Linked DNA regions of Homo sapiens. The protein of the gene in region 2 purifies or fractionates together with the protein of the main gene of each other region. This does not show direct contact. Each region holds a gene or a part of one and is shown on either strand. Other genes may lie near its edges.

Region 1 (4,087 bases), on a different chromosome or scaffold from region 2:
GTCCATTGAGGCTCCTCCCCTGACTGTGAGGCCAGGCAAGCTGTAATGGTATAAAATGGACATGTTTGGGGACACTGGCCTGGGAGCCAGGACACCTGGGGGTCAGGGGACAGGGTGGAAGCTTCCCCTCTCAGCTTCAGAGTCCCCATCTAGGAAATGGAAATGACCAGGTGGCACTGGATGAAACATACAAATTACATACATGCAACTGCAAAGCACCAAAGAAGAAAATACTCCCAAAACCCAATGCAATTAACCTGACATCAAGGCAACCACTGCGCCTGACACTGAGCTCAAGACAGAGCTCAAGACGCCAAACCACTGCGCCTGATGCTGAACCACTGCGCCTGACGCTGAACTCGAGATAGAGCTCGTCTAGTGCCGGGGGAGTTGCTGGGCTTCCTGGGAGGGGCTTGAGATGTGTGTGCGCGCACACACACACACACACACACACACACACAGTTACTTGGGTGGGACTTACAGTGATTTTGACCTGGGTCATTTCTACTGTGTGTGTCTCCAGACCCAAGTCTCTGGGGAAGGGGTGGCTCAACTCAGAGGAGGGTGGGCAATGCTCTAGTGCCCAGCTGGGCACACTCACCACAATTGCTGTCCAGGCTGACCGTAAACCAAGGCTGACTCCTGGTGCCGTCCCTGCTCCTGGGGGAACGGGGGGTCGTGGGAAGCCCTCATGTTGCTGAGAAGCAGGAGCCGTGCTTTTTTCCAGGTTTCACTTGAAAAAGAAGATGAGGGTCTGGCGGGACTCCTTCTTGGTGGAGAGAGGGTGAGTGCCGGGTCCTGGGAGGGACACCCCTGCCCACCTCCCTCCCTCTGCCCAGGAAGCTTCTGTAGCCCCACCGCATCATGCTATTCAGGAGCTGCCCATGGCTCTGAAGTTGGTCCAAAGGCCCCTAAACACAAAGCCCATTCACTGCTCCTATAGACACAGAATTGGGGTCTGAGGTCACGTGTACGCTTTTGGCATGCTTTGTCCAGCCTCTACAATGTCTTCAATTTATTTAATTTATTGCCAACTCATGCAATTTGGGAAGTTTCTTATAAAATTCCAATGTCTTAAGTTTCCTAAACATCAGAAGACCCGGGCAGGTGGCCCTGCGCCCTCCACTGTGAGGAAAAGCCGGAGCCGAGGGGGCACCCCTCTAGGTGGGCACACATGCCTCCGGGGCTCCTCCAGAGCTGAGAGGCCGGCCCCGCGGCTCCTGCTCTCTGCCCCATAGCAAGCTGCTACACAAGAGAGACAATGACAAGGTGGACGCCCAGGAGGAGAACTTTCTGCCCAAGTACCAGCGTGTGAAGGACCTGTGTCAGCGTGCTGAGTACCAGACGGCGTGTGAGCAGCTGGGACAGGTAAGAAGGCTCCCTTCCCTCCCAACGGCTCCCCCTCCTGACTGCAGCCGGCCCTGACCTGCGAGGCTCTGAGAGCCGCTGAGCCAGCAGGGCCAGGGCCTCCCAACGGGTAGTCCTTTGCTGCCGTGTGGTGCCCAAGATGCTGTTTGGTGGTGCAGGATGATGCTCACAATAAGTGATTCATTTCTCAGCAGCCTTTGGACCCTGACCGTGTCAGAGGCCAAGTGTCCCGTGGGTGTGTGTATGCCCTTAGCGCCTCTCTAGCCCTTGCCGATCTCTCTTGCACGAAGGCCCCAGCAGGAGTTAAATTATTTTATTTTCACCATATTCACTTTGACAGTATCCTCTTTGTGACTGGTTTTCCTTTTATAGGAGTAATAAGACATGGCTTTTTAAAATAAATATAGGTAAGGTTTTAAAAAGTGAATTGATTGCAAGAGAAATATTAAGGAAATTATGGCCAGGAACAGTCCGTGGCTCATGCCTGAGGTCCCAGCTACTCCAGAGCTGAGGCGGGAGGATGGCTTGAGCCCACGTGTTGGAGGCTGCAGTGAGCTATGATTGCGCCACTGCACTCCAGCTTGGGTGACAGAATAAGACCCTGTCTCTAAAAACATAAGAAAAAAGAAAATTATCTGGGAAGTATCAGAGATAGCCAGAAACTGACATGTTTGGGAAAGCCTGAAGGAGGCTTTTCTGAGGCTGGAAAGCCAGGGCAGGCTTGGAGAGGAGGGTCGGGGGCGGGGCAGGGCAGGGAGGGGAGTGGGATGGAAACTCTGCCTTGGCTGGCCCAAGGGGTGCCGGAGGTGTGTCCCTGCCCTGCCTGTCAAAGGCTGGGACTTTGAGCTGGGGCTGGAGCTGTGTGCCTGTTTCACCTATGAGAAAAAGCAAAACCAGGGCCCTGGTATTGAAGGCCAAGGCCTGAAGTGGATGCGTTTCTGATGGACTGCATTTGAATGACTCCATCTTAACACTGCACACAGAATTAGTACAGGCCCATACAGGCCTGACTGTGCCTCCCCACCCAGTGTGTGTTTGTAAACCCACAGACCCCTCTTAGTCACACAATTAACCCGTATCTGCCACCGGGCAGGAGCTGTGGATTTCATCCCTCCGTTGTACAGCATGAATGCGTCCCCCCGCTTGCCAGGCACTGTCCTAGGCGCAGGGCCACAGCCTCGAACATGCTCAACAGAAGCTCCTGCCCTCCCAGAGCTGATGTTCTGGAGAGAGTTCAGCCTTGACTTTGTACCGAGATCCCAGAAGTGGTTCTGATTTTAGTTCTGGGCTAAAAGGAGTGAAATGAGGAGGCCAGGAAGTCTTTGCCCCTCGACGAGGGAACGTTGTCAAGTCCCCCACTGGTTCTTTCTGATGTCTCCCCTGACCCAGATCAGGGCTTGGGCAGCCAGAATGACCTCTTTGCTGGGGCCAAGAAAGAGGAGGTATCAGCATTTTCCAAACAATCAGAGCACACCACTGAAGCCAAAGGAAGAGAGTGCTGAGGGCGGAGTTTGGGGCACTTAGCCTAGGCCAGCTGGGAGGCAGCAACCCACGGCCCCCGACCCAGCCCCGGAGCTTTGGGGACCTCAGGCTCAGACGTCTGCCCCCCATCCCAGGCAACGGCCCTGCTCACAAGCCGGTACTCCCCGAGTGCCGTTGCCATGTCCCTGCTTGTGCCGTGCCTTCTGGAATGCCCTGCCCAGTGTAGAAGCTGTACCCTGTGGCCCGAGGACGTCTCTTAGGGGCCTCACACCCAGCCATAGCATTGTCTTGGGTACCTTGTCCGTGCTACCCCACGTGGTAGATGTTTTTTTGTCATTTGCTGAACAAACGTGCCCAGGAACCGAGCTCATGTGCATCTGTCTGTCTCCCGGTGACACGGGGACATCCTAAGGGCAGGGCCCGGCTAGAATTCATGTCATCATTGCCAAAGCCCAGACCAGGGCCCAGGCCGGGCAGGAGTAAATGTGCCCTGGGCACCTCGTAATGATGATCATCACGGGCAACACGTGAGTGTAAGCTCTACCTCCAGCCACCCTATCTGGCAGGTATGTTCTGTACACGGGGAAACTGAGGCCCAGGGCTCAGGCAAACTGCCCACAGCCTCACAGCTTCAAGTGGTGGAGGCAGGATTTGAACCCAGGTAGTTGGGCTGCGGGACCTTCGTTCTCAGCAGCTGTAGGGACCCCAAGTCAAGCCGACACTGGCCCAGCCCTGTGGGGCTCAGGCGCCGCCCCCGCCAGGACAGCCTCGGGACGGGCCATGTGGACACGGCTTCTACATGAGTAGTTGCAGGGGCAGCAAACCCTTTCCGCACAAGATCAGACAGTAAATAGTTTGGGCTTTGCAGGCCACATATTTGTTTTTGTTCTTGCTTTTTACAACTCTGAAAACGTACAATGTAAAAACCGTCCTTGGTTTGCAGGCCATACAAAAACAGGCTGTGGGCTGGAGTTGACTAGCAAGAGGGCTGCTGTTTGCCGACCCCTCAAGTCGTGCCCCAGCTGAGTTTGTTGGGTTGGAGCGGGGAGCAGGCAGTGGGGAAGGAGAATTCCAGGCAGAGAGAGCTAAGTGGACAGGAGGCTGCTCGCCAGCGCACACAGCTCAGGGCTTCACGCAGAACTCAGAGCCCTGGCTTTTCTTGAAAAATCAGACCTGGGCTTCTGGGCCTGTGCTCCCCTCTGGCGACAGTCAGATGGGTATAGCCGGTCACAGTGCC
Region 2 (3,708 bases):
AAGTGCCCTCAGTGTTTTAAATCATTTAAACCTCCCAATTCTACAGGGCTAGGGCTGTCACAACAAACTGAGTGACTTAAACAACAGACAAGTATTGTTTCACAGATCTGGAGACTAGAAATCAGAGATCAAGGTGTTGGCAGGTCCGTGCTCCCTCTGAAGGAACTGGGGAGGGATCTGTTCCAGGACTCTCTCCTAGCTTCTGCCAATTCCCTGGCTTATGGCAGTGGAAATCAAATCTTCATATGGCGATTCTCCATGTGTGCATGTCTGTGTCCAAATTTCCCCTTTTTATAAGGATACTGATTATATTCGCTTAGGGACCCACTCTAATCCCATATAACCTCATCTTAGCTAATTACATCTACAATGACCCTATTTCCAAATAAGTTCACATTCTGAGTTACTGAGGGTTAGGGCATATGAATTTTTAGGGGACTCAATTCAACCCATCACACCTATGATACTATTATTCTGATTTTATGTATGAGGAACAGAGAGGCACAGCAGGCAAGTGATTTGCCTATGGTGAAAAAAAATGAAAATGAATTGTTAGTTTCCATTTTTCAAATTCACTTTATCACTCTCACTTTACTTTTAGGAAGCAAATATTAGACTCCCCATGCAGACATCCAACATTTGTGACACAAGCATGTCTGTTGGTACTGTTGGTGGCCAGGGAATCAAAACACAGCAAAGTTTTGAGATGGTCAAAGGAGGCTACACTTTGGATTCCAACAAAGGAGGTGGACATCAGACCTTGGAGTCCGTCAAGGGAGTGGGGCAGGGAGATACTGGCAGATATGCGTACACGGACTGGCAGAGTTTCACCCAACCTCGGCTTGGCGAAGTAAGTTCCACTGTCTTTGAGGTCATATTACATGGAAGTTAAATGCTAGTTATAAATCAGAATTTCCCAAAAGTTTTACTCCTCATATACCTGGAATTCAACATCTTTTACCTGTTGGATTATCATAGATGTGGATGTCTGGTTTAAACCCAAAGATAAAAATGATCTTTGAAAATTCACCTTTGAAAATACAGTTTACAAAACTTTATCTAGGAGTGCCATATGTAGATGTGTTTACAAAGGATAAAAGGTTCATAGCCTCTTCCCTAGAAATTAACAGGAAAACCAGCTGGAGTGAAATATTTATTATACAGGAATGAATGGATCATAAATTATAAACATTTCTCAGTGTGCTTGAGTTCTTTGTGTGGTTATGAAGTCCTGGCTATCAAAATCAACCAGATAAATTGTTGAGCTTTTATTTTGAGTTTTAGTTCCTTGTTTTGTTTTATGTTCAGATTAATCAGTATAGGTTTGATATTAGCCAGTTTAATATATTACACTATCACAGTTATATAGTAGTGTATAAACATAGGAATCATAGCCTATATTGGTTTTCCTCAAATACGTGAAGAAGCTACAAAGGTAAATTTCAAATATACATGTTTTGTGTTCAAATGGGAAATTATAAATGTGTTGCGTGATATATGCGTAGTCTTAATTTTTTAAATGTGCTCACTAGAAGCATTTATTTATTTGCTATATTTTAAGAGTGACTATAATACAGACCAATCCTGTGCATTTTTTATATATAGGAATCCATTAGAGGACACACTCTGATTAAAAATTAAACAGTAAAAGGTAAATCAAAGACATCATTTTTCTGCTAATATGTTTAGGTGTTTTTTAAAAAATAATAAAATGTGCTCTTTTTTGATACAGAAGGTGTATTTGTGTGGACAAGATGAGGAGCATAAACATTGTGAAGACTACGTTTGTTCGTATAACTATGAAGGCAAAGGTTCTCTGGCCGGCTCAGTAGGTTGCTGCAGCGATCGGCAGGAAGAAGAGGGACTGGAGTTTCTAGATCACCTGGAACCCAAATTTAGGACATTAGCAAAGACATGCATCAAGAAATAAATGTGCCTTTTAATAGTGTAATATCCACAGATGCATAAGTAGGAATTTATTACTTGCAGAATGTTAGCAGCATCTGCTAATGTTTTTGTTTATGGAGGTAAACTTTGTCATGTATAGGTAAGGGTACTATAAATATGAGATTCCCCTACATTCTCCTTGTCTGGTATAACTTCCATGTTCTCTAGAAATCAAGGTTTTGTTTGTTAATTCTCTTTTATATGCATGTATATATTGCCCTTTTCACGACTGTACTGTACACCTTCTTGCACCTTTTATTTGCAAACTGATGTTACTTTTTGTGCTGTGGAAGAGCATTTGGGAAAGCTGGGTATTATAGAGGCCAATGAAAGATGAATTTGCATTGTAGATGTACGAATTAAATATGTTCTTCAAAATCTTGGGGAGAATTATGTTCTTAGAACATAGTTGGTGCCAGATAATTGCATTCTCTCCACCTGAGTGGTTTAAAAAGGACTTTTAAGTATTCTTCAGTGCAATCTTCAGTTTTGTGATTAAGTTCATTTCTCTTTTACACTTTTGTACTCCTCAGAGCAGTGCTCCCAGCATTGTTTTCTTTCAGGATCCTTCAGAGCTCAGTCCCTGGACCTCTGCCCATGTGGATTTGTTGTTAGGTCACTCCAACTTCTAGGGTTCTTGGAAAGATAAGGACCAGAACAAGCTCATAGCAAATTGAGGGGCAGAGATTTTATGAAGATTACATGAGAAGATTTCCATGAAAGAATTGCAGCCCTGAGGTCCATGGGTTGACTTATGCTCACAAATATGTTTCGTTTGCTCAACATGGTTTACTACTAACATTTTAAAAATATAAATACTTTAGCAAAAACATTCACTCTTGAGTTTGACATAGGCCTGCCTTATCTGTGGTTGCCACCTGCCATCTCCAAGCATTTGGACAACTAGCCCTGATGCATTAGGCTGCAACTCTGATATACAGAGACTAGCACCTTGAATATGCCAGAAATTGAATTACCATCTGTATTAGAACTTAAGACTCAGCCTAAATTTACAGTTACTTTAAGAAAATGGGCAGTCAGAATTAGGGACTAGAATGTATATGAGAAACCCCCACTCTACTAAAAATATAAGAAATTAGCCGGACATGGTGGCGAATGACTGTAATCCCAGCTACTCAGGAGGCTGAGGCAGGAGAATCGCTTGAATCCAGGAGGCGGAGGTTGCAGTGAGCCGAGATTGCCACTGCACTCCAGCCTGGGCAACAAGAGCGAAACTCCGTCTCAAAAAAAAAAAAAAAAATTGAAATCAATTACAGCAACACTTACCAAACATTTGTAGAATGATGAATAAATGAACGCACACATTCAGAAATAATTTTGAATGTATAACATTTTAATAGGATAGTATATTTTATTAATCTAAAAAGAAACTATATATTTAAATAGCATTTTCGTAGTCATTTGTGGCAAACTCTATAAGTCTATAAACAATAACAGTATGGAAATTTCTCATCCAGAAAAAACAAAGACTTAAAAAAATCTATTAACTAGATATTTTCTAACTAGTTAACTATTTTTAAAAATGAGTGGCTTTTTAAAAAAATTTTGTGACTAGTCTTCTAATTCTCAGTTCCAAATTAAAGGCGCTTCTTGATATGAAATTGGATATTGGATCAGAAGAAAAAAGTGATTTTAATAAATCAGATTTTATAAGGTATCCATAACATATAATTTTTATAACCATTATAAAATATTTTTGTGGTCATGCAATTTTTGTTCTCTGATGTACAGGTTGCTCTG
Region 3 (4,087 bases), on a different chromosome or scaffold from region 2:
TCCAATAAACACTGCACCATTTCCTTCAGAAGACTATGACCTCTTAAATCAAAGGATTTGAAAACTCTGAAAATAACATGCCCCCATAACTGAATTTAAAATGATTTTGCAAAGTGCCATTATCTTCCGTAAGTTCTTATTTATTTGAGCTCTTTATAATGTGAATAAAGGGAGTTTTCAAATTATGAATATATGATACTCCAAAACTTTGTTCATTTGTTCATTCGTTCTTCCATCCATTTGGCAGACATTTATGATAAGCCAGGATGTGTTACTGAGGACCATTCATATAATAATACTGTTGAAACTTATGTCTGAAATTAACATCTTCCATATCCATTCAGAAGTCCACAACAGGCTAGGGACCATTCTGGGCTTATTACAGGGTCCCAGGTGTGGCTTCCTGCTTCTTCTCCAGGCCTTGTACAGAGAGTGTGTATGGAAGCATTCCTTGGCTGCCTCTGTTGTGAAGACTTAAGGGCTCATAACACACACATTACCCCTCATTTCTCTTTGTAGATCTGACTGTTGGGTTCAGGATTTCATGGAAAAAAAAGGACAATGCTCCCCACAAGAACACAGCAATGAATTATGTTTAGCTCACAAGAAGAGTGGTTTTTCTAGTCACCAGATATTTCATTGAATAAAACCAACGTTTAACGTTTAGAAGAAATATCTTTTAATAAGTTTTAATAAGTTTTGTGGGGGTTTTGTGTGTGTGTGTGTGTTTGGTTTTTTTTTTTTTTTTTTTTTTTGAGAGAGTCTCACTTTGTCAACCAGACTGGAGTACAGTGGCATGATCTCGGCTCACTGTAGCCTCAACCACCTGGGCTCAAGGAATACTCCTCGCGCCTCAGCCCCCCAATTAGCGGGATCAACAGGTGTGCATCATCATACCTGGCTAATGTTCCTTAGTTTTTATAGAGATGAGGTTACGCCCTGTTGCCCAGGCTGGTCTCCAACGCCTCGGCTCAAACAGTCTACCTGCCTCAGCCTCCCAAAGTGCTAGGGTTACAGGCGTGAGCCACCTTGCACAACCAGTAAGTGTTTGTTTGTTTGTTTGTTTGTTTGTTTGTTTTGAGATGGAGTCTCGCTCCGTCATTCAGGCTAGAGTGTGGTGGCACGATCTCAGGCTCACTGCAACCTGCCTCCTGGGGTCTAGCAATTCTCCTGCCTCAGCCTCCCGAGTAGCTGGGATTACAGGCATCTGCCACCACACCCAGCTAATTTTTGTATTTTTAATAGAGACGGGGTTTCACCATGTTGGCCAGGCTGGTCTCAAACTCCTGGCCTCAGGTGATCTGCCTGCCTTGGCTTCCCAAACTGCTAGGATTACAGGCGTGAGCCACCGCGCCCTGCCCAGTAAGTTTTTTAGAACATAAAATTACCCAAACTCTACTGTGTTATATGCAAAGTAAGTTTTCGTGGAAAGTGGTTTTGTAGCATACCAGATAAATTATTTCTGTCTTTCACCTGTTTCATCTCTGGTGTATTATCAGGTCGCCTCTACCTTGCCCAGAACACAAAGGTGCTGCAGATGCTGGAGGGAAGGCTGAAGGAGGAGGACAAGGATATCATCACCAGGGAGAATGTTCTTGGGGCCCTGCAGAAGTTCAGTCTCAGGTAACGACTGTGCAATAGGTCACGGTGTCTCCTGTGAGATCAGATTGAGTTAAAATTCCCATGGCAACCCAGGAGGCAGATGGTATTTTTCCACTACACTTTGGAGAGGTTGGATGACTTTCTAAGACAGAGCTAGAAAGCTTATCTGTAATCCACTAAACTATCCTGCGCAAGGCTGCTGGGGATGGAGGAAGACATTTTCAAAGCATCATTGGATTTTCCTAATGGACATTATCGAGTGCCAGCCATGCAGGATTGTGTCTCAGGGCATGTGCAGGGCTTAGAGACAGACACATGAATCAGACCTGATAGAGCCTCAGCCCTCAAGTTACTTCCAGTCCCCTGTGGGAGCTGCACACATGAATGCACATCCCAGCAGAGTGTCAAGGGCAGTTCTGTGGAAGTCAGGGTTAGGGCCTCCTGACCTTGTCCATGATCCCAGCAGCCCACCCCATGGGATCAGCCTAGACCGTCATGACTTGGAACCAATGGGGCCAGGCTAATTTCTGTATTTCTAGTAGAGACAGGATTTTACCATGTTGGCCAGTCTGGTCTCGAACTCCTGACCTCAGGTGATCCGCCCACCTCAGCCCCCCAAAGTGCTGGAATTACAGGCGTGAGTCACCGCACCCGGCCCCGTAGGTTCCTTTTTAGTTTACAGTTTTGTTGAGATGTATTTACACACCATAATATTCCCCCATATTAAGCATACAATTGAAGGATTTTTAGTGTATTTACAGAGTTGTGCAGTCATCACCACAATCCAGGTTTAGCACATTTCCATCACCACAAAAAGAAACCTCATACCCATTTACAGTCACTCCTCATTCCTACCCCCAGTCCCCGGTAGCCACAAATCTGCTTTCTGTCGATTGACTTGTACTGGACGTTTCATATAAATGGAATCATGTAGTGTGCACTCTTTTGTGACTGGCTTCTCTCACTTAGCATCGCGTTTGCAAGGTTTGTCCATGTAGCAGCATGTGTCAGGGCCTCATTCCTTTTGTGGCTGAATATGTACTCCATTATGGCTACATCATATTGTTTGTTTGTTTTTGAGATGGAGTCTCACTCTGTCACCCAGACTGGAGTGCAGTGGCGCAATCTTGGCTCACTGCAACCTCCGCCTCCCGGGTTCAACCAATTCTCCTGCCTCAAACTCCTGGGTAGCTGGGATTACAGGCGCACACCACCACACCCGGCTAATTTTTGTATTTTTAGTAGAGATGGGGTTTCACCATGCTGGTGAGTCTGGTCTCGAACTCCTAACCTTGTGATCCACCCGCCTCGGCCTCCCAAAGTGCTGGGATTACAGGTGTGAGCCACCGCGCCCGGCCTACACCACATTTTGTTTGTCCTTCAGTTGATTGGCATTTGAGTTGTTTGCATTTTTGGCCAATATGCATAATGCTGCCATGAATGCTTCAGCACAAGTCTTCGTGTGGACATATGTTTCTTTTTCTCGTGGATCGGCATCTAGGAGAGGAACTGTTGGGACATATGGTAATTTTTTCAGAGTTTTTATTCTCTCATGATCACCTCAAGTTCTCTTTGACTTTCTTGAGAACTCTAGTCCCTGGAGTCTTCAACTTTTTTCTGTCGGTCCTCTTCTGAACACACTTTCTTCCCATCAAATGTGGTTTACATTTGACTGACTCACAAATAACCAGAAGCCTACAAAGTGAAATGGTCTAAGCATGTGTGTTTTTAGTGGGGGAAGGGATAGGTATTTGTATCTACCATTTGCCAGCTCCCTGCCAATGAAAATTCTTTGTTCTAACTATATGAATCGAAAAGAACTGTAAGTGCTGCAGAGTCATTACTTCCTCAGAGCATACAAACACTTCATTTCTTTTTGTTTATAGAGAGAACTTTGCTCCATGTTGATCGCTTTGGGGAAGTTTTTAGAAATTCAATAACTATAGTTAAGTAACAGATACAAGATATGGTGAAAAAAATACTTCCTCCTGGTAATGCAAATGTTTACTGCCTGTTTATCTTTTCCTCTAAGTGTTAATTTAAGCTTTTTTGTTCTGTAAATGTGCTTAACCTTTTTGCAGTTTTCCAGAGTCTCTGCAATAAATGAAGAAGGTAGCTAGTTACCAAGAGAGCGCAGTCTTCACTGTATTCTAATAAGCCACCCTGATTGGGTCAGTGTAGTGTTTAAGAACAGGATGAACGGATAACTGGTTCTGCTGTTCTGTCCTGAGTGGTGGTTTCACCATAACCTGCGCATCCGGAGATGTGCAGAGCTGGCTTCTCTGTGGCATGTCAGTTTTCTACTAATCCAGATGGCATCTCATAATGATACCACACTTAGTCTCAGCAATTCTTAAAGCTAACCTGATGACATTCACCATCACACATTTTGATGGGGTATTGGATTTTGTAAGATTCTACACCTGGACTTTGGGTGGAAAATCATTCCTTATAATTTGCATTAACCAGGTCATTAAACTACCCT
Region 4 (4,087 bases), about 32 Mb from region 2:
GGAAATTTGGATACATACATGGACAATAAAGAGAAGGATGTGAAGATGGAGGCAGAGACTTGAGTGATTTGTCTACAAGTCAAGGAATGTCAAAGTTTGCTGGCAACCACCACAAGCTGAGAGAGAGGCATGAAACAGATTTTCCTTGAGAGTCTTGAAATGAACCAAATCTGCTGATATCTTGATTTTGGACGTTTGTCCCCCAGAACCATGGGAGAATAAACTCCTGCTATTTAAACCACTCAGTCTGTGGTAATTTCTTATGGCAGCCCCAGGAAACGAATTCACACTACTAAATGAAAATAGATCTCTGTCTATCAATATCAACACCAATATTTATATACAGGGATGATAATGACCTTAGTTTTCCAGTTCTTAATAGCATACTGAATAATTGTGCATGATTGTATTTCAGGTATGTAAAATAAAATTGTTTGTTCACTTATTTTCTTCCAATCACCATTTTCTCTTTCTCCTTTTTTTTTGGTTTTAGATCGTTATAAGTTTTACAATGGACTCTCTTGTTACAGCAAACACCAAATTTTGCTTTGATCTTTTTCAAGAGATAGGCAAAGATGATCGTCATAAAAACATATTTTTCTCTCCCCTGAGCCTCTCAGCTGCCCTTGGTATGGTACGCTTGGGTGCTAGAAGTGACAGTGCACATCAGATTGATGAGGTACGTGTCCACTAGGGTGCTACACAGGGTCCTAAACTCTGGGTCCACACTCAAAGTCAGACCCTAATCCCACTTAGGCAAGCCAAGGGGCTTATTGCACCCTGGGCTTGGTCAGAACCCATCCCTGTCTCTGAGTCTTTATTTGTATTTTCTCCATCTTACTTCCTCTTCGATCCTACCATTCTTAAAGTCTCACTTAAACTTGTACCTTCTTTAGGGTGCTCCTCAACTTCATGTCTGGCAGCTTTTCTCATTCATCTCTATCTTTATCTCTGTATGCATGTCTGTCACTCTTTTACTCTATGATTGCTAATACCAATATTGCTAGCGATTTTTAGTATGTGTATATGTCTTCTGTCTCACTCATTTCATTAAATAAATATTCATTAAGTACCATATATGGTTCCAGTGGCTAGAGAGCTTGGTGTCCTCCTGGACTCTTTCTCTCTCACTTTATACCACATTTGTTAGAAAATTCTGTTGGCTTTTCTTTTGAAAGATATCCATAATCCAGGCACTTCTCCCAGTCTCCTTGAGGTCTGAACCACAACCATCTTTTCTCACCTGGATACTGCAGCAACTTCCTGATGGGCTTTCCTGCTCTCACTGGCAATCTATCCTTTGCACAGCAGTCCAAGAGACCCTTTTAAAACCTGAGCCAGATTCTATTTCTCATCTGTTCAAAAACCTGGATTTCTTATTTCACTCATGATAGCAGTTCAAGTCCTTACAATGGCCCACAAGGATCTGGAGATCTGAATCCCAGATAAGCCCTGTGACTCCATCTCTCACTTTCATCCCTCCTCACTGTACCTGTCACATTGGCCTCCTGGCTTCCTTGGGTAAGTCATGCCCATCCTATCTTGGGGCCTTTGCTCTCGGTCCCTTTGCCTGATGGCTCTTTCCCCTGGTAACTGACCTCAGCTCACTTTCTTCTTCAAGACTTTGATCAGTGTTTATCTCCTATACGGGGCCTACTTTGACCTCCTAATCTAGTGCTGCATCCTGACCTCCAGACCATAAGGGATACTTTTGTAGGCACCTAATAAACATTTCTAGAATAAATAAATGAAGGTAATAAGAACAAATCCCCAAATAAACTACAAGTTCCCATGGTTGGCCTTATACTTCCTTGGATGTAGCACATAGTGCGGGGGTTATGCACAACTCAGGCTGTTTCCCCTGAATATGGAGCAGTAGAATTTATGGATTAAGACAGAATGTGTTTCTGGGGTCATTCTGCTTTATTCATCTACTAAGATTTGGTGTATTATTTTCTTATTCCATTAGCAAAACTTAGCTTTAGAGTGTGGTTTGCATCTTGCAGGGCAGAATTCAGATGTTCTTTCTTAGGCAGTTGAGGGCACCTGCTGACCAAATGGGTCTGAGTAGTGCAGGATATGACGCCTGTCTCCTACCTTTCTACCAGGCTCTGGATAACTTGTCTTTTGCTGTCCTCACTCCCTTGATTCATGTGAAACTCTAGATCAGCACTGTCTGACACAAACATAATGAGAACCACATAGTAATTTAAAATTTTTTAGTAACTGTATTGCAAAAGTAAAAAGAAACAGGTGGGACTAATTTTAATAATAATTTTTTAACCTAGTATATGCAAAATATCATATCCACATATCATCAATATAAGAATTTTAATGAGCTATTTTATTTATTTATTTTTTTATACTATATTCAAGATCTGGTGTGTATTTTGCACTTACAGTCAATTCAGATTGGGTATCTATGAAATGCTCCATAGTTACATTTAGCTTGTGGATACCTCTATGTTCTTTTAGTTTGGTTATATTTATTCATAAATGCTCTCCCAGGGTAGCGGTTGGTTCTTCTCCTCGATTCCACCTCCCAACCCAAGTACAGAAGCACCCACTTTCCTTTAAACTGTTGTTGATTGTTTTGTTTGACTATGTAATCATTGCCATTGTCTCATTATGAAATGTTTCTGAAGTTATTCAGGCTTCCCTCTGTTCATATTATCTGAAAGACCCCATCCCGTTATCATGCAGGTACTACACTTCAACGAATTTTCCCAGAATGAAAGCAAAGAACCTGACCCTTGTCTGAAAAGCAACAAACAAAAAGTGCTGGCTGACAGCTCTCTGGAGGGGCAGAAAAAAACGACAGAGCCTCTGGATCAGCAGGTGAACCGCCACCGTAGAAAACTCTTGCCTTTCTTTTTTACAAACTGCTTATTCTGGCTGTAGGATATTTGGTGATAGTTGCTTATCCCCAAATATTAGACTCTGGATACCATCAACAGCAATAACCTCATGTGATCTGTGATTCCTGAGTATGGATCTCAGATGTCCTTGGCTATCAGCTAGTTTCCTAAAGAGTAGGATCTGGTGTCTTCTGCTTATGATAAAGAAGCCTAGATCATCACTCTGTCCCTCATCTGCTTCTATAGGCCACAGGGCCCCAACACAGAGTATGGTCAAAGATAAAGGTGGTAAGGGGTAGGGTCAGCTGTGGAATTCTTACTGTCTCCCTCTATCTCTGCTTGTTCCATTTCGTGCTGAAATCTGCACTGACAGACAAAACTTTTATTGGTTGCCTCATGCCAGGAGGAGGAAAGATATTATCCAGGGTATGCATCCCCCTACTTTAGAAAGTTTAAGAGGAGGGTGGATAGATGATTGTCTTTCTTTCTTTCCTTCCTTCTTTCTTTCTTTCTTTCTTTCTTTCTTTCTTTCTTTCTTTCTTTCTTTCTTTCTCTCCTTCTTCTCTCCTTCTCTCCTTCTCTCTTTCTCTCTTTCTTTCTTTCTTTTTGTTTTTTCTGAGATGGAGTTTCGTTGTGTTGCCAGGCTGGAGTGCAGTGGCGCAATCTCAGCTCACTTCAACCTCCGCCTCCTGGGTTCAAGCAATTTTCCTGCCTCAGCCTCCAGAGTAGCTGGGATTACAGGCATGAGCCACCATGCCTGGCCTCTTTGAAATGTAAAGAAAATCAGAGTGTGTCAGTCTGAAATATAGTGAGCGTTGCTGAGTTCCCCAGATGTATTTTTCCTGGATGATCTTGATATAGATGTGGGAGCCATAATCTTCCACTGGGACCACTTCTCACCCTCCATTCCTCTGTTCTTCCCAGCTCACTTCCCCCAGCATGGTAACAGAGACAGCTGACATCTTACTAAGAAGCTCTATCTTGCTTCTGTACAAAACACGCATCTTTTAGCGGTGTTTAGCTCTTCTGATAGACACAGTGAAGGTCACATTTTGTTTCTTCTTTCCTTAGGCTGGGTCCTTAAACAATGAGAGCGGACTGGTCAGCTGCTACTTTGGGCAGCTTCTCTCCAAATTAGACAGGATCAAGACTGATTACACACTGAGTATTGCCAACAGGCTTTATGGAGAGCAGGAATTCCCAATCTGTCAGGTGAGTTGCACACGAAT
Region 5 (4,087 bases), on a different chromosome or scaffold from region 2:
TGGTTTGTTCATGACCAGAGTAGGAATGTCTAGTGGTATCTCCTGTCTGTCCATGAGTAATTCTGTGTCTGTCATGAATTATGGATTCTGACTCTCCATGTTGAGATCCACTTTGGCCGTGAGTGTGTCCTGAATGTGTGTGCGAGCCCCCTGAGTGCACTTCACTGTCACTGGACTCACTGTGGCCAGATCCCCTTCTTCCAGTTGTACTGGACCCTCTCTGTGTGGATTTTCCATGATGATAGTGGGCATGTCTAGTGGTATCTCCTGTCTGTCCATGAGTAGTTCCGTGTCTCCCATGAACTGTGGATCCTGACTCTCCATGTTGAGATCCGGCTTGGCCATGAGTTTGTTCTTGTGATTGTGGTCTGTGTGAGCCCCCTGAGTGCACTTCACTGTCACTGGACTCACTATGGCCAGATCCCCTTCTTCCAGTTGTCCTGGACCCTCTCTGTGTGGACTGTCCATGACCAGAGTGGCCATGTCCAGTGGCCTCTCCTGTCTGTCCATAAGTAGTTTCATGTCTCTCATGAACTGTGGATTCTGACTCTCCATGTTGAGATCCAGCTTGGCTGTGAGTTTGTTCTTGTGAGTGTGGTCTATGTGAGACCCCTGAGTGCACTTCACTGTCAGTGGCATCACTGTGGCTAAATCTCTGTCTTCCAGATGTTCTGGAACCTGTCTGTGTAGACTGTCCATGACCAGAATGGCCATGTCTAGTGGTATCTCCTCTCTGTCCATGAGTAGTTCCTTGTCTTCTGCGAACTGTGGATCCTGACTTTGGGTAGTGAGATCCAGCTTGTGTGTGAATGTGTTCTGAATGTCTGTGTGAGACCTTTGAGTGCACTTCACTGTCACTGTTCTCACTTTGGCTAGATCTTCGTCTTCTAGTTACCCTGGACCCTGTCTGTGTGGATTGTCCTTGACCAGACTGGCTATGTCTAGTGGTATTTATTGTCTGACCATGAGTAGTTTCCTGTCTCCCATGAACTGTGGATCCTGACTCTACTTGTTGAGATTCACCCTGGCCCAAGCCAGTTGATTGACCTGAGCCTGAACCATATTGGCCAAATCCAGTGGACTGACCTGAGTCAGATATATGTTGTCCAGAACTAGAGAAATTGTCTGAGCCAGACACATGCTGTCCAAAACTTGTGGTTGGACCTGAGCCAGACTCATGTTGGCCACAGCCAGATGATTGACTGGAGCCAGTACCATGTTGGCCATAGCTAGACTGACCTGATCTGTACTCATGCTGTGCAAAGCCAGAGGATTTACCTGTGCCTGACCCATGTTGTCCAAAGCCAGAAGACTGACCTGAGCCCGATCCATATTGGCCAAAGCCAGAGGACTGACCTGAGCCTGGCCTGTGTTGTCCAAATCCAGATGTCTGTCCTGAATTTGACCCATGTTGACCATAGCCAGATGATTGACTTGAGCCAGAACCATGTTGGCCATAGCTAGACTGACGTGATCTAGACTCATATTGTCCAAAACCAGAGGATTGTCCTGAACCAGTCCCATGTTGTCCAAAGCCAGAGGACTGATCTGAGCCTGATCCATGTTGTCCAAAGCCTGAGTATTGGCCTGAGCTTGACCTGTGTTGTCCAAAGCCAGTTGTCTGTCCTGAACTAGACCCATGTTGACCATAGCCAGATGACTGACTTGAGCCAGAACCATGTTGGCCATAATTAGACTGACTTGATCTAGACTCATGCTGTCCAAAGCCAGAGGATTTTCCTGAGCCTGACTCATGTTGTCCAAAGCCAGAGGACTGACCTGAGCCTGATCCATGTTGGCCAAAGCCAGAGGATTGACCTGAGCCTGACCTGTGTTGTCCAAATCCAAAAGTCTGTCCTGAACTTGACCCATGTTGACCATAGCCAGATGACTGACTTGAGCCAGAACCATGTTGGCCATAGCTAGACTGATGTGATCTAGACTCATGTTGTCCAAAACCAGAGTATTGTCCTGAGCCAGTCCCATGTTGTCCAAAGCCACTGGACTGACCTGAGCCTGATCCATGTTGTCCAAAGCCAGAGTATTGACCTGAGCTTGACCTGTGTTGTCCAAAGCCAGATGTCTGTCCCGAACTTGACCCATGTTGACCATAGCCAGATGATTGACTTGAGCCAGAACCATGTTGGCCATAGCTGGACTGATGTGATCTAGACTCATGCTGTCCAAAGCCAGAGGATTGTCCTGAGCCAGACCCATGTTGTCCAAAGCCAGCGGACTGACCTGAGCCTGATCCATATTGGCCAAAGCCAGTGGATTGACTTGAGCCTGACCCATGTTGTCCAAAGCCAGATGTCTGTCTAGACCCATGTTGGCCATAGCCAGATGACTGACTTGAGCCAGAACTGTGTTGGCCATAGCTAGACTGACCTGATCTAGACTCATGTTGTCCAAAGCCAGAGGATTGTCCTGAGCCAGACCCATGTTGTCCAAAGCCAGAGGACTGACCTGAGCCTGATCCATGTTGGCCAAAGCTGGAAGACTGACCTGAGCTTAACTCGTGTTGTCCAAATCCAGATGTCTGTCCTGAACTTGACCCATGTTGACCATAGCCAGATGATTGACTTGAGCCAAAACCATGTTGGCCATAGCTAGAATGACCTGATCTAGACTCATGTTGTCCAAAACCAGAGGATTGTCCTGAGCCAGAAACATGTTGTCCAAAGCCAGAGGACTGACCTGAGCCTGATCCATATTGGCCAAAGCCAGTGGATTGACTTGAGCCTGACCCATGTTGTCCAAAGCCAGATGTCTGTCTAGACCCATGTTGGCCATAGCCAGATGACTGACTTGAGCCAGAACTGTGTTGGCCATAACTAGACTGACCTGATCTAGACTCATGTTGTCCAAAGCCAGAGGATTGTCCTGAGCCAGACCCATGTTGTCCAAAGCCAGAGGACTGACCTGAGCCCGATCCATATTGGCCAAAGCCAGTGGATTGACCTGAGCCCAACCCATGTTGTCCAAAGCCAGATGTCTCTCTAGACCCATATTGGCCATAGCCAGATGATTGACTTGAGCCAGAACCATGTTGGCCATAGCTAGACTGACGTGATCTAGACTCATGTTGTCCAAAACCAGAGGATTGTCCTGAGACAGACCCATGCTGTCCAAAACCAGAGGATTGTCCTGAGACAGACCCATGCTGTCCAAAGCCAGAGGACTGACCTGAGCCTGACCCACATTGTCCAAAGCCAGAGGACTGACCTGAGCCAGACCCATGTTGTCCAAAGCCAGATGTCTTACCTGAGCTAGACCCATGCTGGTCATAGCCCAAGGATTGACTTGATGTAGACTCATGCTGGCCACAAGTTTGACCTGAGCCACATACATGTTGTTCGAACCCAGAGGACTGACTCAAGCCTGTTCCATGTTGTTCAAAGCTAGTAGACTGACTTGAACCAGACCCATATTGATCACATTTGGAAAATTCATTTGAACTAGAAGAGTTTGAAAAGCGGCCACAGGAACCATATTCATGTTGACCATTACTACAAGACTGGCTACCTCCAGACCCATATTGTCCACAGCAAGAGGACTGACTTGAGCCTGTTCTCCATTGTCCTCCACAGTTCTGTGGTTGACCATTTTCTCTAGCTCCATATCCTCTCTGACTATAGGACTGACTACAGGGGTTAGACTCAGGTTGACCACATCCAGAGGGCTGACCTCCTGAGACACAGCCATGGCCTTGTCCTCCCTTAATTCCTGACTGACAGCCTGACTGAATATAGCTAAATTGATTTCCTTGCCCTCCAAATCTATGTGACTGACAAGAACTTGAAGCATTTTGTGGCCTTCCACACCCACTTGAATTGCTATAACCACATGCATGACTTCGCCTCCCACTGTCTCCTGAACCTGAACAGCTAGACCCAAGCTTTTGTTCTCTAATTCTTGACTGAGTAGAGTTTGATTCATGCCCACTAGTCTCCAATCCACATGACAGACCACCATGACCTTTCCTTTCCCAACTGTTTGATCCAGATCCAGATTCATACTCCTCCCCAGATTCCCTAGAAGGGCTAATGTGTGACTTGTTTATTCTTTCTCTCAGTTCTACAGAGCT
Region 6 (4,087 bases), on a different chromosome or scaffold from region 2:
GCTGAATATGTAATAGTCAATTTTGGAGGTGTCATCTGCATATTTGGTTTTCCTGAATTGGTACCAGTGGTCTTAGAATGGCTTTAGCACCAAAAAAAAAAAAAAAAAAAAAAAAGTTTCTGGCCTTTGGAACAATGAAAGCACTGCTTCTCTTTGATTTCTCTGGCTCTGCTCTGATTCGTTGAGGCCTTAATGTCTAAAAAAGATTTATAGTAAGGATAAAGGATATGGAAGGATGGAGTTGAGATGTAAAATGACTTTAAGAAATAATTACTGTTGAAAGAAGTGTAGAATGTGCAAGGTCATGTAACTTATATTCCCATTAAATTGTTTTGTAAGTCAATAATCACTGTAGCAGGTTACAAACTGAAGTAATGGCCACAAAAGTCAAATACAGATAATTCCACATCATAAATATGGTTTGTTTCCACTTGCTTAATTTCTTAAGGGTTAAATATTCTCTCAGCATAATTTGTTGAATATGGATTAAGACAGTATGAGAGTGTTTGCCATGTCTAGAGAATACCTAATTTACAATAATTTATTTTCTAAATGATCACTTTCATTGTTTTTATGTCTAATATTTTTAGGTATATTACAACTGTTCCTGTATTGAAAGGAAAACAGAAATAACATCCACTGCAGAAACTTTTGGTTTTGAAGCTAAAGCTGGAAAATGTGAAACTCATTGTGCGAAACTGCCCATATTCCTTTGCATTTTCTTTATTGTAATTATTTTTACCTTTATGGCCGGTACTCCTATAACTGTGTCTATCCTAAGGTATGTAGCACGTTGAGAAATTTTCATTCCCTAAGGCAACATGTTGATGGAAAACAAATGGACTCGGGGTTCATTTGGGGTTCATATTGACCATTGGTTCAATACCAATCAGCCCTTACAAGATCATTAGTTCTGTGGCATTGGACAAGCTCCTCTGTAGAACCCCAGATGTAGGAGATTTAAATGATATGCAGGTGAAAGTGTCTTCACATTGCCTGCCTGGCTTGTGCTTGGTGTTTTCTCTGCTTCTTTCATGAAGCTTCAGGTGTGAGCTGGAGAAACGTTCAGTTTTGAGTATCATAGAAATAAAATGCATTCCAATATGCCAGAATCAGAATGGCATGCATTCTACCTTATGCATTAGGCACTGTGACGTTAAATCTTCCTTAAGCAGTGCTAATCAATAAGAAACTGGCTATTACCTGTGTTGTTCACCTGTGTTTTATGTTTCCAGTTGCTCTTCCTCCTTGTATCCCACTGCACAAACACATTCCATACTTGTACATTTCATACCTGTCCTTCCATAGAGTCATCAGTCTTTGTATATCTTTCCTAATGAATTATAGCTTTTTTCTTTTTTTGTTCCTTAGTATTTACTCACTACATTTTCTTTTTTTACTGTTTATTTAATTTTTATTTTAAGCTCAGGGGTACATGTGCAGTTTTGTTCTTTTTGCTTAGAGTAGCTTTGGCTTTTCTGCACTGAAGCCATTAGGTCCTGGGCTTTTCTTTACTGGGAGACATTTCCTTACAGCTTCAATCTTGCTACTTGTTATTGGTCTGTTCAGGCTTTGGATTTTTCTTGATTCCATCTTGGTAGGTTGTATGTATCTAGGAATTTGTCCATTTCTTCTTGATTTTCCAATTATTGGCATATTGTTGCTCATAGTAGCCACTCATGATCCTTTGAATTTCTACAGTATCACTTGTAATGTGTCTTTTTATTTCTGATTTTATTACTTTGCATCTTCTCCTTTTTTTCTTAGTCAGGCTAAAGGTTTGTCAATTTTGTTTAATTTTTCATTGATCATTGGTATTGTTTTCTTCATTTCAGTTTCATTCATTTCTCCTCAGATCATTATTTCCTTTCTTCTACTAATTTTAGGTTTGGTTTCTTCTTGTTTTTCTAATTCTTTAAGATGTATCATTAGATTATTTATTTGAAATTTTTCCTTTTTTTTGATGTATAGCTATAAACTTCCCTATTAGTACTTCTTTTGCTATATCCCATAGATTTTGGCATGTTGTTTTCATTATCATTTGTTTCAATAAATTTTTCAATTTTCTTCTTAATTTCTTTATTGACCCACTAGTCATTCAGGAGTATATTGTTTAATTTCTATATATTTGTATAGTTTCCAAAATTCCTCTTATTAATTTCTTGTTTTAGTCCATTGTGGTCAGGGAAGATGACTGATATTATTTCAGTTACTTTGAATGTTTTAAGACTTGTTTTGTAACCTAACGTATGGTCAGTCATTGAGAATGATCCATGTGCTGACGAAAAGAGTGTGTATTCTGCAGCTATTGGATGCAATGTTCTGTAAATATCTATTAGATCCATTTGGTCTATAGTACAGATTAAGTCTGATGTTTCTTTCTTGATATTCTATCTGGAAAATCTGTCCAATGCAAAGCATGGGGTGTTGAAGTCTCCAGCTATTATTGTATCAAGGCCTGTCTCTCTCTTTAGCTCTACTAATATTTGCTTTGTATATCTGGGTGATTCAGTGTTGGCTACATATATATTTAAAATTGTTATATCCTCTTGCTGAATTCACCCCTTGATCATTATATAGTGACTTTCTTTGTCTCTTCTTATAGCTTTTGTCTTGAAATCTATTTTTTCTAGGTATAGTGACTCCTATTCTCTTTCAGTTTCCATTGGCATGGAATGTGTTTTTCCATTTCTTTATTTTCAGTCTATGTGTGTCTTTATAGGTGAAGTGTCTTGCTTGTTGGCAACAGGTCAATGGATCTTGTTTTATCATCCATTCAACCAGGCTGTGTTTTCTGATTAGAGAGTTTAGTTCTTTTAGATTCAGTGTTATTGATAAAACAAACAAGTAAAAAGAAAACTAATAAAAACTCTACACCTTAACTTTGTCCCCTGGCTTTTTATTCTTTTGTTGTTTCTATGTATATCTTATTGTACTATGTCTTGAAAAGTTGTTGTAGTTACTATTTTTTATTGGTTCATCATTTAACCTTTCTACTTAGGATAAGGGTAGTTTACACACCACAGTTCCAGTGTTAGAATAGTCTGTGTTTTTCTTTGTACTTATCATTACCAGTGAGTTTTGTACCTTCAGGTGATTACTTACTGCTCATTAATGTTCTTTTTCTGATTGAAGTACACCCTTTAGCATTTCTTATAGGACAGGCCTGGCATTGATGAAATCCCTCAGCTTTTGTTTGGGAAAGTCTTTACTTCTCCTTCATGTTTGAAGGATATTTTAACCAGATATACTATTCTAAGGTAAGAGTTTTGTTCCTTCAGCATTTTAAATATGACTTGCCACTCTCTCCTGGCCTATGAGGTTTCCACTGAAAAGTCTGCTGCCAGATGTATTGAGGCTCCACTGTATGTTATTTGTTTCTTTTCTCTTGCTAGTTTTATGATCTTTTCTTTATCCTTGATGTTTGAGAGTTTGATTATTAAATGCCTTGAGGTAGTCTTCTTTGGGTTAAATCTGCTTAGTCTTCTATAACCTTCTCGTACTTGGATATTGATATCTTTCTCTAGGTTTGGGAAGTTCTCTGTTATTATCTTTTTGAATAGACTTTCTTACCCATCTTTTTCTCTACCTCTTCTTTATGACCAATAACTCTTAGATTTTCCGTTTTGAGGCTATTTTCTAGATGCTGTAGGCATGCTTCATTGTTTTTTATTCTTTTTTCTTTTGTCTCCTATGACTGTATATTTTCAAAAAGCTTGTTTTCAGTCTCACTAATTCTTTATTCTGTTTTATCAGTTCTGCTACTAAAGGACTCTGATGCATTATTCAATACGCCAATTGCATTTTTCAGCTCCAGAATTTCCACTTGATTCTTTTTTTGTTTTGAGATGGAGTCTCGCTCTGTTGCCCAGGCTGGAGAGCAGTGGCCATGATCTTGGCTCACTGCAACCTCTGCCTCCCAAGTTCAAGTGATTCTCCTGCCTCAGCCTCCCGAGTAGCTGGGATGACAGACGTGCACCACCATGCCCAGCTAATTTTTGTATTTTTGGTAGAGACAGGGTTTCACTATGTTGGCCAGGCTGAGTCTCAAACTCCTGACCTCAAGTGATACATCTGCCTCAGCCTC
Region 7 (4,087 bases), on a different chromosome or scaffold from region 2:
GCCTGCCTAGTGAGGTGAAGGAGTATCGCACTGTAGTCCCCACTTTTTCTTGAGAACACTTCTTATTTACAGCTACTCCTTTCTCCAATGCCTAACATCTTTCCACCCACCTCCTCCTTTATCATCTCCACCTCTCTGCAGTACCATCTACTTCTACCTCTTTCTCTTCTTTTCTTTCTCCTTTAAGGTATGTGCCGTCCAGGTGAAAAACACTGGGAAGATGTATGCCTGTAAGAAACTGGACAAGAAGCGGCTGAAGAAGAAAGGTGGCGAGAAGATGGCTCTCTTGGAAAAGGAAATCTTGGAGAAGGTCAGCAGCCCTTTCATTGTCTCTCTGGCCTATGCCTTTGAGAGCAAGACCCATCTCTGCCTTGTCATGAGCCTGATGAATGGGGGAGACCTCAAGTTCCACATCTACAACGTGGGCACGCGTGGCCTGGACATGAGCCGGGTGATCTTTTACTCGGCCCAGATAGCCTGTGGGATGCTGCACCTCCATGAACTCGGCATCGTCTATCGGGACATGAAGCCTGAGAATGTGCTTCTGGATGACCTCGGCAACTGCAGGTTATCTGACCTGGGGCTGGCCGTGGAGATGAAGGGTGGCAAGCCCATCACCCAGAGGGTGAGTGACTCTCCACCTGCCCCAAGTGCGGGGCACAGAGTTGGAAAGGAGGGGAGAGGGCTTTTCTATTCCCAGGGCAAATAGAGCCTTGGACTTAATTCTTTTGGTTTTTTTTCCTAAAGCGCTTACGTTGTCATCTTGCCTTAAGATGAGTGGTGTAAGAGGATTAGATTCATTGGCTATTTGAGGGCTACTTTGCTCTCCTCTCACAGGGGATGGGGGAGCCTCCTTTGTGAGTTGGGGATGGCCTGTGCTTTTGTGATGAGATGGAAAAAGCTGAATCCATAGTCATGGTCCGGGTGTGTCAATAACCACCTCTATGGTGCTGTGTTCCTGAGCCAATAGAGCCTTGGGTTCCTTTTCTGGAAAATGAAGGGGCTGGACCCTAAAATTCCATGATCCTAGGAGGTAAACTTTAATCAGATAAGAAAAAGAATGATCCGGCTGGGTGTGATGGCTCACGCCTGTAATCCCAGCACTTTGGGGAGGCCGAGGCGGGTGGATCTGCTGAGGTCAGGAGTTTGAGACCAGCCTGGCCAACATGGTGAAACCCCATCTCTAGTAAAAATACAAAAATTAGCCAGGCATGGTGACAGGCGCCTGTAATCCCAGCTACTCGGGAGGTTGAGGCAGGAGAATCGCTTGAACCCAGGAGGCGGAAGTTGTAGTGAGCCGAGATCATGCCACTGCACTCCAGCCTGCTCGACAGAGCAAGACTCTGTCTCAAAAAAAAAAAAGAAAGAAAGAAAAAGAAAAAAGAAAAAAAATAAAGAAAGAAGGAAAAAGAATGATCCTCTCACACCTAGAACATTAAAAGTAAAATATCTCCTTTCCTGTTTAGTGTGGAATGGGCGAATGTTTTGCATTGGATGAAGATGATATTTTAAATGAAAATATATGGAAGAAAACAAAGGCAACTGATGTTTATTTTAATCAGTTTTGTTCAAAGTGACTTGCTTAAAATTCTTTGGTTAAAAAGAGAATTATAATTAAGCGATTATGTTAGGTGAACGACGGAAAATCTCTGGAATTCTAACATCTTTACCTCTGAGTCTCTGTGCACAAAGGTGGGAGATTCCACAGCAAGGCAAGGGCTCAAACCTGGCTCTTAAATGGTTACTTAAAACCTCATTTTTGTACAGTTTTCAGCCTACAGGGCCCAAAGGAAATGAGAAAAATCATGGCAAGTTTGGGAAACTGCTGTGGTGATTTTATGTGGCTGTAATGGAAGGGATGTTGACAAGACTGAAGGGCTGGGCTTTCACAGGTGCTGGAATGCCTTCTTGTAGGGGAAGAGGGGTTCTTGAAGGGTTTTAAGAAGGGAAATGACATGATTAGATTTCTGTCTTAAAAAGACCAATGCGGCAACAATTTGGAAGTTAGATGGTAGGTGGGGACATCAGTTAGGAGGCTAAGGTAGTGAGTGGCCCAGGCAAGAAATAATGGGGGTCTGTACAGGACAGTGGGATTGAAGAAGTGGGAGCAAATTGGAGCTTTTGGAAAGAGATCTGATGGGACTTCAGGACCAGCTGGGTATGGGGGTGAGGGGAAAGTGAGGGTCTCTAGCTCCAGTGGCCAGAAGGAAGAGCAGATTTGTAGGCAAGCTGGCAAGTTTAATTGTGATTATGCTGTCTATGAGGTTCCTGTAGAAGGGACAGGCAGAGATGTTCACTAGGCATTTAGATCTATAGGCCTGGTGCTGTGGAGGAAGACCTGGGATAGACGTGGGGATTTGGAGTTATCATGGTTTGGGAAGCAGAGGGCACTGCTGAGTCACTGGGAAAGAGTAGGGGAAGAAGACCAGGAACAGAAGCTGAAAAACACCAACATGTGGGGGTATAGAAGAAAAGGAGCCCTGAAGAGGTTTAAGAAGTAGAAGGCTACTTGGGAGGCTGAGGCAGGAGAATGACGTCAACCCAGGAGGCGGAGCTTGCAGTGAGCTGAGATCACACCACTGCACTCTAGCCTGGGCTACAAAGCGAGACTCCATCTTAAAAAAAGAAAAAAAAAAAAAGAAGTAGGAGGAAAGGCAAGAGTGATATAGTCATAGGAGCTGTATCAGTTAGAGATGGGTTTCAGGGGCATATCCTAGAAAACCCAAATAACAATAGATTAAACAAGACAGAGGTTTATTTTTCTTATGTAACAGGGTGTGGAAATAAGCACTTGCCAGCATTAGTTCAGCAGCTGCAGAATAATGGGATCTGCATCTTTATAATTCTAGCCTTTTCCATGTGCTGCAAGATGGCTGCTGTAGCCCCAGCCATCAGGGCCATGTTCCAGGTAGGAGAAAGGAGGAAGGGTCAGGAGTAAATAGGCATGCATGCAGCAGTTGAGTGTGGCCCCCTTTAGGAGCTTTCCCTGAAGCTCCATCCAACAGCTTTCACTTAGATGTCACTGGCTAAGACTGTGATCTGGCCACCCCCTAGCTGCAGAGGAAGCTGACAAATGACATTCTTGAAAATTCTTTGGTTAAAAAGGGAATTATAATTAAGCGATTATAATTACTGAATTATATCTGGGCTGAGGAGAAGATCACCCGGCTCATGTCCAGGCCATGTGTGCCCACGTTGTAGATGTGGAACTTGAGGCAGGGGTGAAGGAGCGGGTTCTAGTTAGTAAGGATGAAGAACAGCTGGATATTGAGCAGGTAACTAGCAGCCTCTGCCACAGGAGCCAAAGAAGAGGATTTCAGGGAGGAAAGTGTGGTCAAAGTGTCAAGTGTTGCAAAGAGGTAACGTCGCCTGTGGGATTTGGCAATTAGGAAATCAGTGTAAGGGAATGGTGAGGTCTCAATTCAGACTCTGGAGGCTGGATTGATCTAGAAGTAGGGAATGAGACTCTGGAAGGGGGAGACTGGTCCCTAGAAGGGGATACAGTGGGGAAATGGAGTTTTGAGATGGGGAGGGCAGAGCGGGTTTAGATGCTGAGGCAAAAGCCAGCAGAGTAGGTGTTGATCCTGTGGGAAGGAAAGACAGTAGATGATGGCAGAGAATGTGGGGAGGAGCTGAAGTAACACCGTCTCCTCTGTGGGTGGGAAGGAGGAGCAGGCCAGGGAGGTGACAGAGTGTTTGCCTCCTTGGGACATTCCTATGAACACAGGAACGCTGTGAATCGTGGATCCATGTCTGCCTAGGCTGGAGAAAACTGAAGTGCAGCACTTCACAGTTTGGCATTTGTATTGTCCATTGTGCTGAGCAGGAGCGTTCCTTCTGAGTCGCCCATGGACATGTATCACACTAATTGTTGCTATATCTCGACCTTGCTGGAGGCTTAGGGGACACATAGAGCTTTGGCTCACTCCAGTCTCCTTTCTCAGTCTCCTCAGGCTCTGTTCATGGGCCATGGCCATTTGGAAGGACAGCTCCTTCCTTGGCTCCCGGGTGCAGCTCTCTGGCTCATCTGGAACGTGCAGGAAGGTTTCTGTGCCTCCCCAGTGCTGTCCGCTACCAGGAACGTACT

What was found.
Region 1: the proteins of DSC1 (region 2) and SULF2 purify together in Homo sapiens (co-immunoprecipitation; one large-scale study listed by IntAct). This does not show direct contact.
Region 3: the proteins of DSC1 (region 2) and ARMC9 purify together in Homo sapiens (co-immunoprecipitation; one large-scale study listed by IntAct). This does not show direct contact.
Region 4: the proteins of DSC1 (region 2) and SERPINB12 purify together in Homo sapiens (affinity purification with mass spectrometry, with the first as the bait; one large-scale study listed by BioGRID). This does not show direct contact.
Region 5: the proteins of DSC1 (region 2) and FLG2 purify together in Homo sapiens (affinity purification with mass spectrometry, with the first as the bait; one large-scale study listed by BioGRID). This does not show direct contact.
Region 6: the proteins of DSC1 (region 2) and SLCO4C1 purify together in Homo sapiens (affinity purification with mass spectrometry; one large-scale study listed by BioGRID and IntAct). This does not show direct contact.
Region 7: the proteins of DSC1 (region 2) and GRK7 purify together in Homo sapiens (affinity purification with mass spectrometry; one large-scale study listed by BioGRID and IntAct). This does not show direct contact.

What each region holds. Positions count from the first base shown.
Region 1 is NC_000020.11:47,673,775-47,677,861, reverse strand, and holds part of SULF2 (extracellular sulfatase Sulf-2 isoform a precursor), read left to right. Parts: intron 1-727; coding exon 728-784; intron 785-1,238; coding exon 1,239-1,368; intron 1,369-4,087. UniProt on the Homo sapiens protein: Exhibits arylsulfatase activity and highly specific endoglucosamine-6-sulfatase activity. It can remove sulfate from the C-6 position of glucosamine within specific subregions of intact heparin.
Region 2 is NC_000018.10:31,128,736-31,132,443, reverse strand, and holds the end of DSC1 (desmocollin-1 isoform Dsc1a preproprotein), read left to right. Parts: intron 1-601; coding exon 602-850; intron 851-1,605; coding exon of another isoform or gene 1,606-1,641; exon of another isoform or gene 1,642-1,651; intron 1,652-1,732; coding exon 1,733-1,930; 3' UTR 1,931-3,208; downstream 3,209-3,708. UniProt on the Homo sapiens protein: A component of desmosome cell-cell junctions which are required for positive regulation of cellular adhesion.
Region 3 is NC_000002.12:231,271,456-231,275,542, forward strand, and holds part of ARMC9 (lisH domain-containing protein ARMC9), read left to right. Parts: intron 1-1,499; coding exon 1,500-1,623; intron 1,624-4,087. UniProt on the Homo sapiens protein: Involved in ciliogenesis. It is required for appropriate acetylation and polyglutamylation of ciliary microtubules, and regulation of cilium length. Acts as a positive regulator of hedgehog (Hh)signaling.
Region 4 is NC_000018.10:63,555,649-63,559,735, forward strand, and holds part of SERPINB12 (serpin B12), read left to right. Parts: intron 1-493; coding exon of another isoform or gene 494-511; coding exon 512-679; intron 680-2,703; coding exon 2,704-2,838; intron 2,839-3,929; coding exon 3,930-4,070; intron 4,071-4,087. UniProt on the Homo sapiens protein: Inhibits trypsin and plasmin, but not thrombin, coagulation factor Xa, or urokinase-type plasminogen activator. May play a role in cell differentiation.
Region 5 is NC_000001.11:152,353,102-152,357,188, forward strand, and holds part of FLG2 (filaggrin-2), read right to left. Parts: coding exon 1-4,087. UniProt on the Homo sapiens protein: Essential for normal cell-cell adhesion in the cornified cell layers. Important for proper integrity and mechanical strength of the stratum corneum of the epidermis.
Region 6 is NC_000005.10:102,243,946-102,248,032, reverse strand, and holds part of SLCO4C1 (solute carrier organic anion transporter family member 4C1), read left to right. Parts: intron 1-590; coding exon 591-781; intron 782-4,087. UniProt on the Homo sapiens protein: Mediates the transport of organic anions such as steroids (estrone 3-sulfate, chenodeoxycholate, glycocholate) and thyroid hormones (3,3',5-triiodo-L-thyronine (T3), L-thyroxine (T4)), in the kidney.
Region 7 is NC_000003.12:141,780,187-141,784,273, forward strand, and holds part of GRK7 (rhodopsin kinase GRK7), read left to right. Parts: intron 1-187; coding exon 188-625; intron 626-4,087. UniProt on the Homo sapiens protein: Retina-specific kinase involved in the shutoff of the photoresponse and adaptation to changing light conditions via cone opsin phosphorylation, including rhodopsin (RHO).